2 linked regions of the Homo sapiens genome follow. The protein of the gene in region 2 purifies or fractionates together with the protein of the main gene of each other region. This does not show direct contact. Each region holds a gene or a part of one and is shown on either strand. Other genes may lie near its edges.

Region 1 (3,500 bases), on a different chromosome or scaffold from region 2:
GGGGACAGTGAACTGGAGCTCCTTGGGGGAAGGATACAGTCAGCATGTACCTGGCTGGCCACCCCTGTCCAATGCCAAAGCCACCAGGGAGCAGCTGAAAAGCAAGTTTCAGGGACACTCCTGGAAAATGGCTGCCAACGCAGCTGCTTACACATTCAAGCCAGGCACTGAGAACTCTGACTGTGGTCCCCACCTATCTCTTTATGCCTTCATCTTCCAGGCCACAGACACCTCAACCTCGTCTAAGGACATGTTGCTTCCCACCTCCCTGTCCAGCCACCCATCCCTCTCCAGGGATGATGGTACTGGGCTAGCCTACTCACCTCACCAAGTTACATGGGGCTCAAAACCACACCGTCGTGAAATACGTGGAAATGCTTTGCAAACTCTCAAGCCCTCTACAAATGCATCCGATTTGACAATTCTGCCAACAGATCACACGGGGAGCCAGAGGCTCCAGGCAGTGCTGAAAGATGGCCAGGCAGAAGGAATGGGCCAGCCCACCAGGGCTGAGCACTCCTGCTCCTTCCCTCTCCCGTTGGGACCTAAGATGCCAGGTGTTAAAAACAACAACACCACATACACACACACACACACACACACACACACACAGAAGGAGAGGTAGGGGGCAAATAAACCATCCCAAGTCCAGGTTATGTGGAAGAACCTCCGCCTCTCCTTATACCCCATGCATTCATTTCTGGCCCATTGTCACTCAGCCTCAAAGGCTACCACAACCACCAAGCAAGACACAAGAGCCCAACAGAATAAAACCACAAAGCTGGGGCAAAACCCTCCTGGGATACAGTGTGTTTGGTGTCTTCATTCTCAAGAGGGGATCTACTTTCAGAAGAAAGGGGAGAGAAACCAAGCACACTTACATCCTGAGCCCTTCTGCACCACCCCCCCTACCTGGGATCTCTGCAGCAGCCTGGCAGAGAGGAGGCAAGGAGGCAGTCAAGAGCTCAGCTCCAAGTAACTCCCGTGGGGAGAATCCTAGCTGCACAGGGGTACCCGTACCTGGCATTCAAATCATGCAGCCTCTCTCTGGCCCTTCCTTGCCCACCTCCTCCTCTTAACTGCCTTCCCCATCATCTCTTACTCAACAACTGGCAATGACTGCTGAGACTCCCAGTGACTGGGCACTTTCACGTGCCAAGCGCTGTGTTGGGTGCTTCCTGTATTTTTTCTAATCCTTTCAACACTGCAAGATGGATATCATTACCACCACTAACAAACAAGAAAACTGAGGCAGGGCCCAAGGTCACGCAGCTCCTGAGTGTCTAGCTGGCTAAAAGCCCATGTTCTTTCCACTACATAACACTTGAATTTATCTTGTAGATAACAGAGAGGAAAGTAAGGATGAAAGTGTTGTTCTGGGAAAATTAGTCTCTCCCCCTCCCACCCAACCCTACATGCGGCCTGATTGATCTTGTTATTAAAAGGGCAGCTTTCATCAAGTCTCTCCATTACCTACAGAATCGAGTCCCCCACAGCTTTGCCAGGCATTTAAAGTTCTTTACGATCCACTTTTTCAGTCTTACTCCCCTCATCCCCAGACTCAAACCCTCCCTCCATCCAGCCTGGCCTATCATTCCTCATTTCCCATGTCTCTGGCTTGGAAGGTTTCCTTCTCTGCCTGTGACATTAGTTCCATCAGCCAAACACGGACCGGGGCTGACGACATGCCAGGCCCTGGGCTAGGTGCTGGGGACACTACAGCCAGGACAGGGGGCTCCCTGCTGTCACAGAGCTCCAAGTCTGCCCTCCTTGTGAGGCCAGTCCACACCTTGCTCTTTCCTGGGGCCTTCTCTGATCACTCGGTGTCCCACTGCTTGGCCTCGTCCTGGATCCCCAGCACACAGGGGCTGCCACTCTTATGGCACTCAGCCACACTTCCACCTTATATGCCGGGTCTGTTTTAAGACTTCCGCTGTAATGTGTTTATTTCTGTGGGAAATGTGCACTACAGGTTCCAAACAGCATTTTAAATGGCAATTCAGTCCTCAGGCCAACCCACAAAAGCCTATTAAATATATAATCGTCCCAGAGAAGTACAGAACCTAAATAAGTGTACCTTAAAAGCTCTACAGGAGATGCCAGGAACAAACATCTGCCTCCTGCACCTCCACCCACTGTCCTCCAGGGTCTGAGCTTCAAGCGACCATCAGGGGCAGAGGCAGAGAAGCAGGCGGGAGATGGATGAGTGGGAAGAACCCGATTTACATTCAGCAGATCTGGCTCTTCTCCCAGCTCTGCCTTCACTAACTGGGTGGCCTTGAGTGAGTCCCTTCCCTCCCTAAGCCTCGCTATTCTCCTATAAAAGGAGAAGGCTGAGTTAGATCAGTTCTGAATCTCACAGATCAGCAGAATATATATATTTTTAAATATAAAATGGATTTTATATTATTAAAAATAAATTTTATCAAGAAAGGGCTTTTAAAAAGAAATCACAATATACTACAACCAGCCTCATTTTTCAAAGGGATGCTGTAACCCCCTCCCCCTCAAAATATCGTCATGTCAGAAAAATTGACAACTTTTTAAACTGAAAACATTTGCATTCATGAAAAACAAACAAACAAAAAAATACACCATTTTTTTTTTCCAGTTTGACTGCAGACCAGAAAACTCTATCCCAGCCCAGCTTCAGTCCTTGGCCCAATGCTTGAGAACCACTGAGCTAGGAGACCTAGAGTTCACTCCAGCTCGACGTTTCTCCATCCTACAGGCTGGATGGAGCCAACAGGACAATCAGCATGGACGGCCCTAGAGAAGAGTCAGCTGCAGGGATGAGCTGAGCTGGACAGCAGGAAAGCAGGCAGTCAGCGCAGGGATGGGAGCAGGGCAGCATGGCTCGGCAGGGATCGCCCTGTGCCCTAGGGCTACCTCCTGCCCCTGTGTCCAGGAGCACTTGGCAGGGAGGGCACCGCCACCCATAGCCTCTGAGGGCACAGACACCCAGCCTGGAAGCTCTTGGAACTAACCTGTCCCACGTGTTTGACAGTGACACCTTCCTCCCCAGTATTCTTTTGGAAGGCTAAGGGTTCCCAAAGCAACATTTTAAAAAATCTTTATTAACTTTTCTGATTATAAACTAATACATATTCATGTGAAAAACTTGGAATCCACAGAAAAGCATAAGCAAAGAAGCAGAAGTCATCACAACTCCACCTTCCAGAACAATGACTGTTAACATTTTGATGCACTAATTCTTCATACATGTAACTTCAGCCACCCTCAGATTTGGTTTTACATCCTGCTTTTCCCTTACTTATCACACTTGGGCATTTTTCCACATCCTTAGATATTCTTCATAAACATCATAAAATGTTTTCATAATAAACATAATATTCTGGTAAATAAAAATATTCTTTATAAACATTGCAATGGACTGAATATTTCTTCTTCTTCTTCTTCTTTTTTTTTTTTTTTGAGATGGAGTCTTGCTCCATCCCCCAGGCTGGAGTGCAGTGGCGCGATCTCAGCCCACTGCACCC
Region 2 (4,037 bases):
TCCCCATTTCTTTTGTGGTATCTCCCCCTACCACAAACCAGGCTGGAACCCAAGCCCCTTCCTCCACAGCTGCCTTCAGTGGGTAGAATGGGGCCAGGGCCCAGCTTTGGCCTTAGCTTGACGGCAGGGCCCCTGCCATTGCAGGAGGGTTTGGTTCCCACTCAGCTTCTGCCGGTCGGCAGCCTGGGCCAGGCCCTTTTCCTGCATGTGCCACCTCCAGTGGGAAACAAAACTAAAGAGACCACTCTGTGCCAAGTCGACTATGCCTTAGACACATCCTCCTACCGTCCCCAATGCCCCCTGGGCAGGAGGCAGTGGAGAACCAAGCCCCATGGCCTCAGAATTTCCCCCCAGTTCCCCAAGTGTCTCTGGGGACCTGAAGCCCTGGGGCTTACGTTCTCTCTTGCCCAGGGTGGGCCTGGTCCTGAGGGCAGGACAGGGGGTTTGGAGATGTGGGCCTTTGATAGACCCACTTGGGCCTTCATGCCATGGCCTGTGGATGGAGAATGTGCAGTTATTTATTATGCGTATTCAGTTTGTAAACGTATCCTCTGTATTCAGTAAACAGGCTGCCTCTCCAGGGAGGGCTGCCATTCATTCCAACAGTTCTGGCTTCTTGCTGTAGGACCAAGGGGTTGCCCTGGAGGAGGGGTGGGGGCCCCGGCCTCGGCATGGCTACTCTAGGAAGAGCCACTGCTACTCAAGGAGTCACTCAGCCCCTTCTGTGCCAGAAGTCCAAGTAGGGAGTCGGACCCTCAACAGCCTCTTCTTTCTCCTGAGCCAGGAAGACAGACATGAATGCATGATGGGACAGGGCCTGGGTCTTTAATGGGTTGAGCTGGGGAGGGCCTGTGGTGAGCTCAGTTGTAGGCTATGACCTGGTTGATCCAGGTGCTGAACTTGCTAACTCGAGTATACACAGCAGGTGCGCGCACATTGCAGTTTTTGGTGCCCCAGGAGACAATACCAATAAGCACCCATGTGTTTCCCTTCTGGCAGACAAGAGGGCCTCCGGAGTCACCCTGAGAGGGAAGAGGGAGGGAGAATTGAGTAGGGGGGGTTGGGGAGGTATACCACAGGACAGCGCAGAGGAGCGGGTGCTGGGGCTTACCTGGCACGAGGAGGCACCTGCGCCACCTGCACAGATCATGGAGTCAGTGATACTTGAGCCCCAGTACTGCCGGCACTGATTCACAGTGACCAGGGGCAAAGCCACCTGCTGCAGATGTGCTGGTGTCACATTGCCTGTGGGCCAGGAGGGGTGGTCACATGGGGCCCAGAACACTGGTCCCCACCCCAGTCCTCCCACCCTGAGCTTTGGCCTGAGTCCCTACCCACGCCACTGAGGCGACCCCAGCCGGTGGTGACACACGTGAGGCCTTCAGTCAGAGCCTCGTTTGAGGATGCCAGGCAAACTGGCGAGATGCGTGTTGTGTACTGGGCTGGCGAGGCGAGCTTCAGCAGCGTCACGTCATTGTTCATGGTGGTAGAGTTCCAGCTAGGGTGTGTAATGGCCTGTGGGGTCAGAAACAGTCCATGTTCTGATGGGTGCTGAGCAGGGTAGGCCAGGGCATGTCCTGAATTCCTCGTTCCCAGCACCCACCCACCTGCACTGCCCACTTTTCCTCCGTGTCTGCAGCCCAGGCACTCACCCGAGAGACGGACAGAACCTGCAAGGGCTCTGCGTTTGATGATCGGTCATACTCGCCCAGGACAACAAAATGGCGGCCAGGGCTGCAAGGGGGTGGGATTAGGCAGCTGCAGGGAGGCCAGCGCGAGAGGGGGACAGCCAGGGGAGGAGGCAGGAAGAGGCGAGGGGCGGGGCAGGTGGAATGCAGGCACTCACCTGACATTGCAGTGGGCAGCAGTGACCACCCAGGACTGGCTGATGAGAGAACCACCGCAGAAGTGGAAGCCGCTGCTGTCCTGTGGTCAGGGCTCAGAGGTCAGAGTGGGGGTGGGCTGCTGAGGCTGCCCCTAGGCATGACGTACCCAGGACCCTGCCCACCCCTCTGGTGGTGTACCTGCAGGGACACCTGCCAGGGCCAGGAGCCCAACACTGCATTCTCCCCGTTGACAATCCTCTGGCTGAAGCTCAGTGCCGGTTTGATGGCAGGAATGCCGCAGCCTGGCCATTGGGCTAATGAGGACCTGCTTCCCATGCCTCAGCCCATCTTTCCCCACCTCCTTTTGGGTGCCCCAGGCTGTGCACCCCAGAGAGGTCTGTCGAGAGGGTACAGCACTACCCCTTCCCCAACAGGGTACATGCAAGCACCTTCGGGCCCCACAGCTATCTTGGTTATCCCTATCCACCCAGTCCCCCAGCCCTGCTGTTCTCCTACATCTGTCTCCAGCCTAGTCCCCGCTGTTCCCCATCTCTACCCCTGGTCTCTCTGCCCCCTCCCGACCTGAACAGTTCATACCCTTCATGCAGCCAGAAGGTTCTTTCTAAAAGACATGGACAGGTCTTCCTGTCTCAGCTTCCTAAACCCTCCCGGGCTCCAGGGCCTGGCTCAATCTCTGGTCCTATTTGTGAGACCACCCCACCTCTTGCCCCCTCCCAGCCCTGCAGGCCTGTTCCCTGCTCCACTGCCCTGGCATATCCTGTTTCTTTTGCCCACTCTGTCCACCTTCGTCCCTTCCAGCCAGCCTAGCTCCTTCCCTGGGCTGTTGCTGGGAGCTGAGTTGCTCCCAGGGCTGAATCAGGGCTGGTCCTGGCCCACTCACCCCAGGAGGAGCCGAGGAGAACCAGGCTTAGGGTCAGGCTGAGCAGCAACATCGTGGCAGATGTGAGGTTGGGAGCTGGGTCTGGCTTTATGGGTCTTCTCGTCCTTGAGCTAAAGCTCCAGGCCTGAGGCCAGGCCAGCTGTGTAGACTCAGCCCCCTCCCACGCTCCAGGCAAGACAGGCCCTTTAGGCCAAGGTCCCCTGACCGAGACCTAGACTTATCAGACAGAGCCCAGGTGTGAGACTCACCTCTGCCACCTCCCAAAGCCTGGCCTCTAATTGGCTCCCAGAACCACCTCCCATTCCAAATGTTGAGCCCTCGGTACTGAGGACAGATGGTTAAATTAGGTCTATAGTGACAACCTGGTGGCTGGGATCACAGGAGTCACCCAGGGCTAACAAAGGCACCAGGCTTTCAGAGAAGGCCGCTCAGCGTCCAGGGTGTTCTGACTGGTGGATGGAATGCTCACTGCGGTCAACTTTGCTGTGAAGGGCCAGGGGCTGTGAGGTTCTGGCAGGCTGGGAGTCCTAACACATCATCGCAGTGGTTCCTCGTCCATTTGGAACAGGAGTCACAGGTCTGCTCAGAGATGGTGACTCTCCCACCAGCACGTGGTTGAGTTGTACACAAACTCGCATTTGTCTGGCGCTGAAGCCTCCGCTCTTAACAATGAGATGATACTTATGAAGGGCCTGGCATTTAGGAGGGCAAAGTGTGAGCTCTTGGTGCCTGGCCGACCGTGGACTGAGGCTGCAGGTGGAGAGTGACAGACATCAAATCTCTGCCACCCTCTTTAGGCCTTGGGGCTCCCATGGGCAAGCCCCTGGTGTCTGTAGCCCATTTGTTACTGAGCTGCAGACCAAGCTTGAAGGGAGAAGACACCCTGTGTGCAAAGTTCCAACAGGTGCATTGGCTGGCGGCCTTCTGGGAGTGTGAGGGCTTTAACTGATTCAAGAACAGATCAGGGCTGGGTGTGGTGGCTCACACCTGTAATCCCAAAACTTTGGGAGGCAGACGTAGGAGGCTTGATTCCAGGAGTTCGAGACCAGCCTGAGCAACATCATGAAACCCTGTCTCTACAAAAAAAATTTTTTTAAATTAAGAAATGAGCTGGGTATGATGGTACACACCTGTAGTCCCAGCAACTCAGAAGGCTGAGGCAGGAGGGATCACTTGAGCCCTTAAGTTCAAGGCTGCAGTGAGCCATGAGTGCACCACTGCATTCCGGCCTGGGCGATGGAGCTAGACCCCATCTCAAAGAAACAGCATCAGCCAAAAAATGAGATGAATTGGCTGGGCACGGTGGCTCA

The links. Proteins that work in one complex are often made in the same cells at the same time.
Region 1: the proteins of CTRL (region 2) and PDIA5 purify together in Homo sapiens (affinity purification with mass spectrometry, with the first as the bait; one large-scale study listed by BioGRID). This does not show direct contact.

Annotation. Positions count from the first base shown.
Region 1 is NC_000003.12:123,070,025-123,073,524, reverse strand, and holds part of PDIA5 (protein disulfide-isomerase A5 precursor), read right to left. Parts: intron 1-3,500.
Region 2 is NC_000016.10:67,929,074-67,933,110, forward strand, and holds CTRL (chymotrypsin-like protease CTRL-1 precursor), read right to left. Parts: upstream 2,790-4,037; 5' UTR 2,780-2,789; coding exon 2,728-2,779; intron 2,129-2,727; coding exon 2,025-2,128; intron 1,927-2,024; coding exon 1,847-1,926; intron 1,735-1,846; coding exon 1,653-1,734; intron 1,516-1,652; coding exon 1,335-1,515; intron 1,246-1,334; coding exon 1,112-1,245; intron 1,023-1,111; coding exon 861-1,022; 3' UTR 501-860; downstream 1-500.